Linked DNA regions of Homo sapiens. The protein of the gene in region 1 interacts with the protein of each later gene in a pairwise test. Each region holds a gene or a part of one and is shown on either strand. Other genes may lie near its edges. The genes, in order: TMEM43, FKBP8 and ZCCHC12.

Region 1 (3,745 bases):
TTGGGGACACTGCACCCTCCTTCTCAGGCTCCATCGCTGTCGCTGCCCCTCTTCCTGTCCATTAGATGCTGCAATTCTTTAGCTGCTTCAGTCCATACTCTCTCCCCGGACATCCCATCTGCTTCCTTGGCCTCCACATGCCGTGACCCTCCAATTTAAAGCTGCAGCTCTGGCCCTCTCCCGGGCCTCACAGCCCTGCAGCTCCCACCACCTCCACCACCTCCTTGACATTTCCACTTGACATCTCAGCCTGTCTAGTGCTGACACTGGCGCCTTCTCCATCTCAGCACATGGCACACCCACCCACCCACTCACATCTATGGGAAAGACATGGCTCGCTCCTCCCCTACCACCCCATCCAGTCCAGGCCACATATTCCCGAGTCTCTTACCACTGTCTGCCCGCAGGAGCCTCACTGGCCCTGCTTCTATCACCCACTCTGTGTTCTCCACACAGTCACCTGCCAGAGCCCTGCCACACCCCCCGGACACCGACCCTGCTGCCAGTGCCCTGACCCTGCTGGCTGCTGTCCCCAGTCCAGGTCAAGTGTCCTCTCGCCTGTGTATCTGCGCGTGGGTTTGCTCTGCCTACAACGATTGCCTGCAGTCATGCCTGGCCAGCTTCCTACATATTCTTTTGAGCTTTGCTTGAACCCCATTTCTTCAGAGGGCTTTCCCTGACCCTCTGATCTGAATCGGGCCCTCTCTCAGAGTCCGTAACAACAAAAACAGGTCACATTTATCACTCACCATTTATTTGATACTGTCCTAAGTGTTTTACAAGTATTATTTAATTCTCAAATTCACTCAGTGAGGTAGGAATACTTACCTCCACTTTACAGATGATGAAACTGAGGCTCTGAGAGAATAAGTCATGTGCCCAAGGTCTCACCTCAAGCAGTTAACTAAACGCTACATTTCCAAGAGCAGGGAGCATGTCTGTGAAGTACCTGGTGTTCAATGAAAACTTGCTGAATGAATGAATAATCCTCAATGACCAAACCAGTTAGGGATGATGTGACTATTACTAATAGTACTTAAACATCTTCCCCTTCACAAATGAGGAAACAGGCTGAGAGATCAGCACCAGCTCAAGGTCCTGTAGCAGGTGGGAGGCAGTGCCAGGGCCGTCTGCAGTGTGCCTGCTTGGGCAGCTGTACTCTCCTGCCCCTGGGACTGGAATCGGGGCATCCTGACTTTTGCCCTGAGCTGCCTGCCTGGCTCTGGGCCTTTTTTCTACTTGGCAGAGACCCCAGACCTTGTGTGGGGGTGGGGGCTGGGCTGGGGGAAGACAGGGCTTTGGGGCTGCTAAGCAGCAGGAGACCCAGGGGGTAAGGAGGCCGCCTGAGCATCTGCACTGCAGGGCCTTCCTTTCTGGGGCATTACCTAAGCCATGGGCCCCATCCACTCCTCTCTGGAGGGGCGGCTGCGTGAGCTGGGCCTCAGCCCTGGGAGAGAGAGCAAGGCCTGGACTGGGCCTCCTAATTTTAGAAACTCGCTGGGGACCCTCAGCTGCTGGTGGAAGGGTGACTCATGGCCTTCTAGGCTGGGAGGTGGCAGCCCTACCCTGAGGTTGGTAACTGGGCTCCTGGGCAACAGCCTGACCACACCCTAGCCCTGGCCAGGTACCAGGAGTTGGTGAGGCCCAAGCACCACCACAAGCTGGAGGCTAATGGGACAGATGGCTGCTGAGGATCTAATAATAGGAACAAAAGGTCACAGCTAACCCCTGATGCCTGTCTGCTGCCTTGACCCTTTCTGGCCACTCTGGAATGAAAACCCCAGCAGTCCTGGTTAGGGCAGGTATAGAGTGCCCCACCAGGGATACCTGTGTTCATCAACAACAGAAAAACTAAAGACTCAATTCTTCTGCTGCAGAGAAGGATTGCCTGCCTAGAGAAGACAGGCTAACTTTTAAGGCACAGAACTGAACTAATCAGCACATCTTGGCACCCCTTCTCCTTGGGACCCGGGGTAGGCATAGCCCTCCCTATTTACAATGGGAGAGGGATACTCAGGTAGCTGAGGCCCAAAACCCTTCCCCGCCCTCCTAATGTTCTGGAAGGACACAGACTTTGGTGGAGCCCCCCCACCCACTCCCTCTCCCCGCTCTGGGCTGTGGCCACAGCACTCCGGGTGCCCCCTTAGAAGGTGAACCCTTTCGTGCCCAGACTGGGCTGTTCTTGCTGGAACTGACTGATCACTGATTCTTCTAGGGTTAACCCCTTCTCGTCAGCAAAACTCACTTGTCAGAGGCCCTGCTTGATCACTGCAGAAACGGATGTTCTACTCTGACGTCCACTGGTATCAGAGCACCTGTTCTCCTCTTTCCAACACTCGGCACGATGCATCAGTACTTACGAGTTTCTGTCACTCTCACTCCTCTACCGGACAGTCTGTGAGGCACAGTGAGTTTAGTGCCTAGCACAGTCCTGCACACTGAGGGTTCATGACAGACTCAGCATCCACAATCCAAAAACCCAAATGCTGAAGTGCTCCAAAATCCAAAACTTTCTGAATGCCAACATGACGCCACTAGTGGAAATCCCACACTTGACCCCATGTGACGGGTTGCATTGTATAAAATCACCTTCAGGCGATGTGTACAAAGTATACATGAAACATAAATAGATTCTGTGTTTAGACTTGGTTCTCATCCCCAAGAGATCTCATTATGTATATACAAATACCTGCAAATCCAAAAAAATCTGGAATCTGAAACACTCCTGGTCAAACACTTTGATGAGGCATACTCAACATTCCGCTATTTCTTCTTCTTGCCTCATTCACTGGCTATGACCCCTGGTAGTGTGATCTTATTAAATAACCACTGGAAGGAAGGAAGGACATGCTTGTTCCTCCACCGTACGAGTAGGGCACAGCACTCACCTCTGCTGAGAAGTCCCCGTGGTGCAGGAGCAGTAAGGTATCCCCAGACTTGGTGGAGAATGGGACTAGCTGGTCACCCCGCTGCCGGGCAATCACAGTGACCTGGTCAGAGGACCTGGTGTTAGAGCTGAGGGGTGACCAGCGGGAGACACGCCCACGAGAGCCATGGCCCACCCTCCCGGGACTGGGTGCCGGCTGGGGAAGTGAGCACAGAAACCCTGGGGCTTCTCTCTCTATACATCCATCTGGGATGCATCCACCTCTGCAGCTCTGGCTGAGCTGCTCCATTCAAAGCTCCAGGCATTCAAAGCTCTTGGGCAGTGCGCAGAGCAGGGGATGGGGCAGGACTGCACATAGGCCAGGAACGCAAGACCAATTATTGACAGATCAAAACGGGCTTGGGGAGAGGGTCTGTGTGTGACTGGAACACCTGTCATAAGGTGCGACTATGAGACCCCTTTTGAGCTGCCCTTCTTAACGTGGGGTCCATGGATGGCTGTGGGGACATGGGAGCTCTGAAACTGCTCAGAAGCGTGCCTGGCTGAGAGTGTGTGCGAGAGTGTGCCTTTCCCCAGGGAAAAGGGGGTCCAAGCGCTCCTGACATTGACCAAGGTGTCTGTGTCCAGGAAAGTCGTGAGGCTCTGACTTAGTGTCTGCCCCTGGGAAGCCAGGTTACCACGTGAGCTGGGCCCAGGTCAGGGTCATCGCCGCTCAGTCCAGCATAGGAAAAGGAGACACGCAAGTCTCCCACCTGGGGGTGGAAGAGAAGCAGGGAGAGTGAGGAACGGAGTAGCTGGCCCAGGCCCAGGTCCAGGATGCCTCGGCTACGCCCCTCAGGCTCTTCTCCCACCTCCACA
Region 2 (3,745 bases), on another chromosome or scaffold:
GTGTGAGCCAGCACACCTGGCCCCTAATTTTTGTATTTTTAGTGGAGACAGGGTCTCACCATGTTGACCAGGCTGGTCTCAAACTCCTAACCTCAAGTGATCCTCCTGCCTCAGCCTTCCAAAGTGCTGGGGTTACAGGTGTGAGCCACCATGCCTGGTCATTTTTTATTTTTTGTAGAGATGGGGTCTCACTATGTTGCCCAGGCTGGTCTCAAACTCCTGGGTTTAAACAGTCCTCTCATTTCAGCCTCCCAAAGTTCTGGGATTACAGGCATGAGCCACCATGTGTGTCCTTTGCTTAACTTATAAATTCATCCCACTTGGTGCTGTGGTGGGGACACTGTGTCACAGGGGCTCTGCTAACCAAAGGTCCCATGAGCACCTCATTTCATGGCTGGGTAAACCGAGGCCCAAACATCTCAGGGCAAGGATTTCAGCCTGAGGGCTGTTTGTCCTCTCTGAGCTTTGGTTTTCTTTCTTTTTGAGGAGGGTGGGGAGACTGGGTTCTTGCCATTTTGCCCAGACGCTGGGCTGAACTTGTGATTCTCCCACATTGGCCTCTCAAATAGATGGAAACTCGGCAAGTCTCAGTTTTCTTAAAAAAAAAAAACAAAAAAACAAAAAAACCAGACCAACCATTGTTCACTGAGCTGGTCTCTAGCACCAGCACTGTCACCCTGAAGTCTGTCCCATCCTGCCCAGTGTCCTGCACGTGGGGTTCCCCACTCTGGTGGCAGAGTGGCCATTGGAAGTTTGGTTTGTGCCCCAGTGTTGGGCCAGCCCCCTCTGGACAGCTAGTGGGCAGAGCTGAGGGTAGGAGTGGGGGCTCAGGGGAGCGGGTGCCTGTTTGAGCTGCCAGGTGACAGGCTGCATGTCCCTGGACCCTGGCAGGGAACGGGCTGTTGAGGAAGAAGACGCTGGTCCCAGGGCCGCCAGGTTCGAGCCGCCCGGTCAAGGGCCAGGTGGTCACCGTACATCTGCAGACGTCGCTGGAGAATGGCACACGGGTGCAGGAGGAGCCGGAGCTGGTGTTCACTCTGGGTGACTGTGACGTCATCCAGGTGCGGGCTGGGGCGGGACAGGGCAGGGGCGAGGGGCGTGCCTTGCTGGGTCTGAGTCTGCCTGACAGCTGGCTATCCCCACACACCCCAGGCCCTGGATCTCAGTGTCCCACTCATGGACGTGGGGGAGACGGCCATGGTCACTGCTGACTCCAAGTACTGCTACGGCCCCCAAGGCAGGTGAGAGTCAGCCACCCTTAGGTCTCTGCAGGTCTCAGGAGGGGGATGGGTGGAGTGGGTGTACCCCTCGGCTCACCCCATCTACTTGCCCATTTTATAGACAAGAAACTGAGGCTGGGTGAGGTGGCTCACACCTGAAATCCCAGCACTTTGGGAGGTTGAGGTAGGAGGATTGCTTGAGACCTGGAGTTCCAGACCAGCCTAAGCAATATAGACCGCATCTCTATACAAAAAAATTTAAAAATTAGCTGGGTGTGGGCCGGGCGTGGTGGCTTACGCCTGTAATCCCAGCACTTTGGGAGGCCAAGGCGGGTGGATCATGAGGTCAGGAGATCAAGGCCATCCTGGCTAGCACGGTGAAACCCCGTCTCTACTAAAAATACAAAAAATTAGCCAGGCGTGGTGGTGGGTGCCTGTAGTCCCAGCTACTCTGGAGGTTGAGGCAGGAAAATGGCGTGAACCCGGGAGGCGGAGCTTGCAGTGAACCGAGATTGCACCACTGCACTCCAGCCTGGGCAAGAGAGCAAGACTGTCTCAAAAAAAAAAAAAAAAAAAAAAAAAAGCTGGGTGTGGTGCACACCTGTAGTCCCAGCTACTGAGGAGGCTCAGGCAGGAGGATCACTTGAGCCCACGTTTTTGAGGCTGCAGTGAGCCAAGATTGCACCACTGCACTCCAGCCCGGGCAACAGAGTGAGAACCTGTCTCTTAATAAAAAGGAGGAAAACCGAGGCTTAGGGAGGGGAACTCGTTCGTCAAGTCCCGCAGCTCCAAGGCGGCAAGTCACTTCCCCTGCACTTTACTGAGGAGGGAATGATGGAGGGCAGAGGGGAGACAGATCGGGGGCTTGAGCCAAGCTCACTCCTTCCTAGCCAGCCCAGCGGGTTTAGGGGTCACCAGGTCTGAGTGCTGCCCCTGCCTGCTCCCACCCAACTAGCAGGAGCCCATACATCCCCCCGCACGCGGCCCTGTGCCTGGAGGTGACCCTGAAGACGGCTGTGGACGGGCCTGACCTGGAGATGCTCACGGGGCAGGAGCGCGTGGCCCTGGCCAACCGGAAGCGGGAGTGCGGCAACGCCCACTACCAGCGGGCGGACTTCGTCCTGGCCGCCAACTCCTACGACCTCGCCATCAAGGCTATCACCTCCAGCGCCAAAGGTGACCGCCTGGGTCAGATCTCCACCATCTCCCCTGCAAAGGTGTCCACTCCGTGCCAGAAACTTCCAGCCCCAGAGAGCCTCAGACTCAGAATATTCTAGAATAGCCCAGAATATGGGTAGATCCCCAACTGCCCCTAAGCTAGGGCCTGTTACAGACTCGTGGTATATCCCAGACCAGTGGAGTGTTGTAGAATGCAAGTGGATATGGGGATGGGGTGACCATAGACAGGGCCAGTTCACATGTACCACAGGCTAGGCCCTCGCTTGCTTAAGTCTCCATCTTGTAGCTTCCTCAGGAGAGCCCCAGGAAAGCGTGGCCCTTGGTCCGGGGTTAAAATTGGGGAAACTGAGGCCAGAGAGGCAGCCTCCGCAGAGGGGTGGGTGCCGGGGTGTCTGGTGGCATGGTGACGGCTGCCGTGGCGGGCACTGTCTCCCAATAGTGGACATGACGTTCGAGGAGGAGGCACAGCTCCTGCAGTTGAAGGTGAAGTGTCTGAACAACCTGGCGGCCTCGCAGCTGAAGCTCGACCACTACCGCGCAGCCCTGCGCTCCTGCAGCCTTGTGCTGGAGCACCAGCCAGACAACATCAAGGCTCTCTTCCGCAAGGGCAAGGTAGGCCACACCGGGGTGCCAGGCCGGGTCACTCAGCCTGGGGTATACGGGGTGGTCCCCAACCCTGCATTTGAGAAAGGCATAGGTATATAAGCCAGCTGAGCTCTGTGGGGTGCAGGTGGAGAAACTGAGGCCCAGACGGGTGCAGGAGTGTGGCCTGGTCACAACAATTCATTGGCTGAGGCCAGAATTTGATCCTCGAGTCTTGGGTCCCCAACCTTTGGCCCAGTGTTTTTTGTTTGTTTGTTTGTTTGTTTCTTGAGACAGAGTCTCACTCTGTCACCCAGGCTGGAGTGCAGTGGTGTGATCTCAGCTCACCACCGCAACCTCCTCCTCCTGGGTTCAAGCGATTGTCCTGCCTCAACCTCCCAAGTAGCTGGGACTACAGGTGCGAGCCACCACACCCAGTTAATTTTTGTATTTTTAGTAGAGATGTGGTTAGCCATATTGGCCAGGCTGGTCTCGAACTCCTGACCTCAAGTGATCTGCCCGCCTCAGTCTCCCCATGTGCTGAGATTACAGGCCTGAGCCACCGTGCCCGGCTTGGCCCAGTGTTGAAACCTCCTCCCATAGAACCTCCATGGGTCCCAGTTTTCCTCAGAGTAAAGTGGAATCCTAGTCACAGCCCTTGGGGCCTTGAGTTGTCTGGTCTTCCCCCTCCTGCTATCACTTCTCCCACCTCACTTTCTGCTTCTCTCCATCCCACGTGGCATTCTCCCTTTCTGCTGTCTAGC
Region 3 (3,745 bases), on another chromosome or scaffold:
ATTATGTTCCCCCAAATTCATTGTAATCCTAACCCTCAGTACCTTAGAGTGTGACTGTATTTAAAGATAGGGCCTTTAAAGAGGTTATTAAGGTAAAAATGAGGCCCTTAGGGTGGGCCCCAATCTGACTTGTGTCCTTATAAGAAGAGGAAATTTGGACACACTGAGAGAACCCAGAGGCACATATGCACAGAGAGGATGGCCAAGCAAGAGGGCAGCCATGTGCAAGCCAAGGAGAGAAGCCTCAGGAGAAACCAACCTTGCTGGCACCTTGAAGTTGGACTTCCCAACCTTCAGAACTATGAGCAATACATTTCTGTTGTTTATAAACCACCCAGTCTATGGTATTTTGCCATAGCACCCCAAACAGACTAAAACAGCACTGTAACAAATTATCACAAACTTGGCTTAAAACAAGAGAAGTTTAATTTCTCACAGTTCTAGAAGCCAGAAGCTTAACATCTGTTTCTCTGGGCTGAATTCAAGGTGTCAGTAGGACTGTGCTTTATTCCTTGCCTCTTCCAGTTTCTGGTGGCTGCTAGCATTCCTCTGCTTATGGCCACATCACTAATCTCTGGTCATTGCCTTCTCTTCTTGGTGCACCAACTCTCCCTCTTTTATAAGGGCACTTGTGGTTTAGATTTCAGCCTGCCTGGAAAATTAAGTCAAAAAGCCTTAACTTAATCACACCTGCAAAGACCATTTTACTTTATAAGGTAACATTTACAGGTTTCAGGGATTAGGACTTGATACATTTGGGTGGCCATTATTTAGCTTCATACAGAGTCCGAAATCTTTGCATACAATTTCAGGAAGATCATGGATTCCAGGTAGGCACATCTGCTCTGGAGTTGCATTTCACCACAGATACCTGTGGACAGATATTGGAGACAGGCTCATTTACTTATTCACAAACCTTGCTACAACTCAGAACCAACCGCAGCGCCGGTTAAAAATACTAAATACAAAACCACATCACAACCGCTAGTCCTAGTAAATCTGAATCCACCAGAGTTGGGGCCCAGAGCCTACATTTCTTTTCTTTTCCTTTTTTTTTTTTTTTTTTTTTTTTTTTTTTTTTTTTTGAGAGGGAGTCTTGTTCCCTTGCCAGGCTGAAGTGCAGCGGTGCGATCTTGGTTCACTGCAACCTCCGCCTCCCAGGTTGGAGAGATTCTCTAGCCTCAGCCTCCCAAGTAGCTGGGATTACAGGCACGCGCCATCATGCCCAGCTGATTTTTTTTTTTTTTTTTGTCTTTTTAGTAGAGACGGGGTTTCAACATGTTGGCCAGGATGGTCTCGATCTCTTGACCTCGTGAGCCGCCCGCCTCGGCCTCCCAAAGTGCTGGGATTTCAGGCGTGAGCCACCATTCCCGGCCAGAAGACTGCATTTCTAACAAGCTCCCCCAAATGACTCTGATGTCTTGCCCCCATACTTGAATGGGTATTGGTTGAGAGCCTTGTTCTCCAGCTCTCCTCTCTGTTAAATGGACATACTGCTACTTCTTTCACAGTAAAAGAGGAGATGTGTGTGAAAGCCTGTTTCCGCAATGCACGTGCTAATGCTCTTCCCGCCCCTTCCCCTCTTCCCCGTCTTTTCCCTATACCAAGGTGAAGAACTTTTATTATTCACTTGATTTTGGACCCACTTCGTGTTTAATGCACCTGGCCTAAGATGCAGAGTTGAGCCCAGGGAGAAGGGACGGGTTGGGGGAGGAAGAAAGAGTCGCAAATTCCCAGGCAGATTGGCTCCATCGGTCTAATCAAGCTGCACTTGACGCTCCGCGGGCCTGCTGCGCCCCCGCCCCCTCAGGCGAAAACTCGCCTCTGCCCAAGGCTGTGCGGGGCGTCCGCCCCCGCACTTCGCTGATTGGCCGCACTAGCCCGCTCGTCACGCTCTTTTGTCTCAGCTGGCAGAGGATAAAAGCCGCCGCGGCTGCCTTAGGAACGGCGCTGCCTCGTCTCTGCTACCCCTGGTTGGGCGGCCCTGCGAAGCAGCTCCTTCGGGCAGCCCCGGGTCGCTTAGCGGCCAAGGAGGCTTCAGTTCTTTGCCGCCTGCAAGGCGGAGACCAGAAGGCGGAATCCACAGCTGGCGACGCGGGAGCATCTGCTGTCCACCAGCGGAGCACAGGTAAAGAATGGGGGTGTGATTGCCCGGCGGGGAGAGGGGTGGGGGAAGACCCACCAGTACTGGGCGGCTCCCAGCTTGGAGAATCGGTGACTGTGAGGCAGGGGTAGGAGTACTCTCGTGGCCCGGCTGCGCTGAGGGAGGAGGTGGGGTTCACCTGGATACTGCGGGCTAGGTAGGATTTGCCTGGATTTGGGGGTGGGAGGAGAGGCGAGGAGTAGCGGGGGGAGGAATCTCGAGCTGTTTGCTTCGAACATCCTTTGCATCTCCTCATCTCTTTCTGGGAGGAATATGTGGGTGGGTGTGTCCAACTCCTATTCCCTTTCTCCGTGGCAGGCCATCAAAGCCGCATCTGAACTTGAATTCTGTGCAGCTGATTGCAGAGCTGGTAGGCCGACGGCTTCCCGGGGGAAATGTAATGCTGGAGGGTGGGGGGCTGGTCTCTGGCTTATAGTCAGGAGGGGGCAGAGAGAATTTTTCGCCTGGCAACAGCGGAGGTGGTGGGTAGCAGGATGACGGGTGAAGCTGCTTCTAACCCTTCCCTTCTCTGGCCTTCTCCGCTGTGGCGCAATCTTGAAACCTCAAGGACCCGGATCTGCGACCCCCTGTGGACAGAGGTTGACCGTACCCCGGAGAGGAGCTTTCTCACGGAGGGCACTGGTTGCAGAGGCTGGAAGTGAAATAAAGACGCGCTCTTGTTTCAGAGTTCGTGTAAGAATCTGAGAAATAACAAGGGGGACGGGCGTGGGGGGCACTTTGAGAAGGGGGTGTGGTTGAGACCAGAGACCATGAGGTTAATGAGATCTTATTTTATTTCCACAAATCTGCGATCATTGTACTCTATTTGGAGAGCCCAATATCAGCTCCAGACACTGCTACACCTAGAATTTGAAGCAACAGTTACCGTCCCTCTTGGAGGACTGGTGGGAGGGATGGATGTGGCTGCAAAAAGCACCTTGCTAGCACGCAGGCATCGGGTAGCTCTGGGAGGTTGTAAGTGTCAATCTCCTACAGGATTATTTTTAGGGTAGTGGGCAAATATAAAATGTACTGCAGGATATTCAGGTAGGAAGAGAATGCAGCTGCAGCCCGCTCCCTTATTAACCAGCCCCCCTTTCTTTTTTACAGCCCCTGCTGAGATAGGAAGGCAGAGCCACCTCCTCTCCTCTCCCACCTGCAGATTAAGCTTTTCTAAAAAGCCTAGGCATCTTCTTATATTCAGATACCCTATCGTCGTCAGTCATGGCTAGCATCATTGCACGTGTCGGTAACAGCCGGCGGCTGAATGCACCCTTGCCGCCTTGGGCCCATTCCATGCTGAGGTCCCTGGGGAGAAGTCTCGGTCCTATAATGGCCAGCATGGCAGACAGAAACATGAAGTTGTTCTCGGGGAGGGTGGTGCCAGCCCAAGGGGAAGAAACCTTTGAAAACTGGCTGACCCAAGTCAATGGCGTCCTGCCAGATTGGAATATGTCTGAGGAGGAAAAGCTCAAGCGCTTGATGAAAACCCTTAGGGGCCCTGCCCGCGAGGTCATGCGTGTGCTTCAGGCGACCAACCCTAACCTAAGTGTGGCAGATTTCTTGCGAGCCATGAAATTGGTGTTTGGGGAGTCTGAAAGC

Evidence for each region.
Region 2: the proteins of TMEM43 (region 1) and FKBP8 interact in binary tests that used the Homo sapiens proteins (3 or more experiments, as listed by UniProt).
Region 3: the proteins of TMEM43 (region 1) and ZCCHC12 interact in binary tests that used the Homo sapiens proteins (3 or more experiments, as listed by UniProt).

What each region holds. Positions count from the first base shown.
Region 1 is NC_000003.12:14,135,052-14,138,796, reverse strand, and holds part of TMEM43 (transmembrane protein 43), read right to left. Parts: intron 3,640-3,745; coding exon 3,565-3,639; intron 2,991-3,564; coding exon 2,889-2,990; intron 1-2,888. UniProt on the Homo sapiens protein: May have an important role in maintaining nuclear envelope structure by organizing protein complexes at the inner nuclear membrane. Required for retaining emerin at the inner nuclear membrane.
Region 2 is NC_000019.10:18,536,867-18,540,611, reverse strand, and holds part of FKBP8 (peptidyl-prolyl cis-trans isomerase FKBP8), read left to right. Parts: intron 1-891; coding exon 892-1,061; intron 1,062-1,152; coding exon 1,153-1,241; intron 1,242-2,175; coding exon 2,176-2,396; intron 2,397-2,838; coding exon 2,839-3,011; intron 3,012-3,745. UniProt on the Homo sapiens protein: Constitutively inactive PPiase, which becomes active when bound to calmodulin and calcium. Seems to act as a chaperone for BCL2, targets it to the mitochondria and modulates its phosphorylation state.
Region 3 is NC_000023.11:118,821,878-118,825,622, forward strand, and holds the start of ZCCHC12 (zinc finger CCHC domain-containing protein 12), read left to right. Parts: upstream 1-1,946; 5' UTR 1,947-2,128; intron 2,129-2,461; 5' UTR 2,462-2,513; intron 2,514-2,711; 5' UTR 2,712-2,836; intron 2,837-3,253; 5' UTR 3,254-3,367; coding exon 3,368-3,745. UniProt on the Homo sapiens protein: Transcriptional coactivator in the bone morphogenetic protein (BMP)-signaling pathway. It positively modulates BMP signaling by interacting with SMAD1 and associating with CBP in the transcription complex.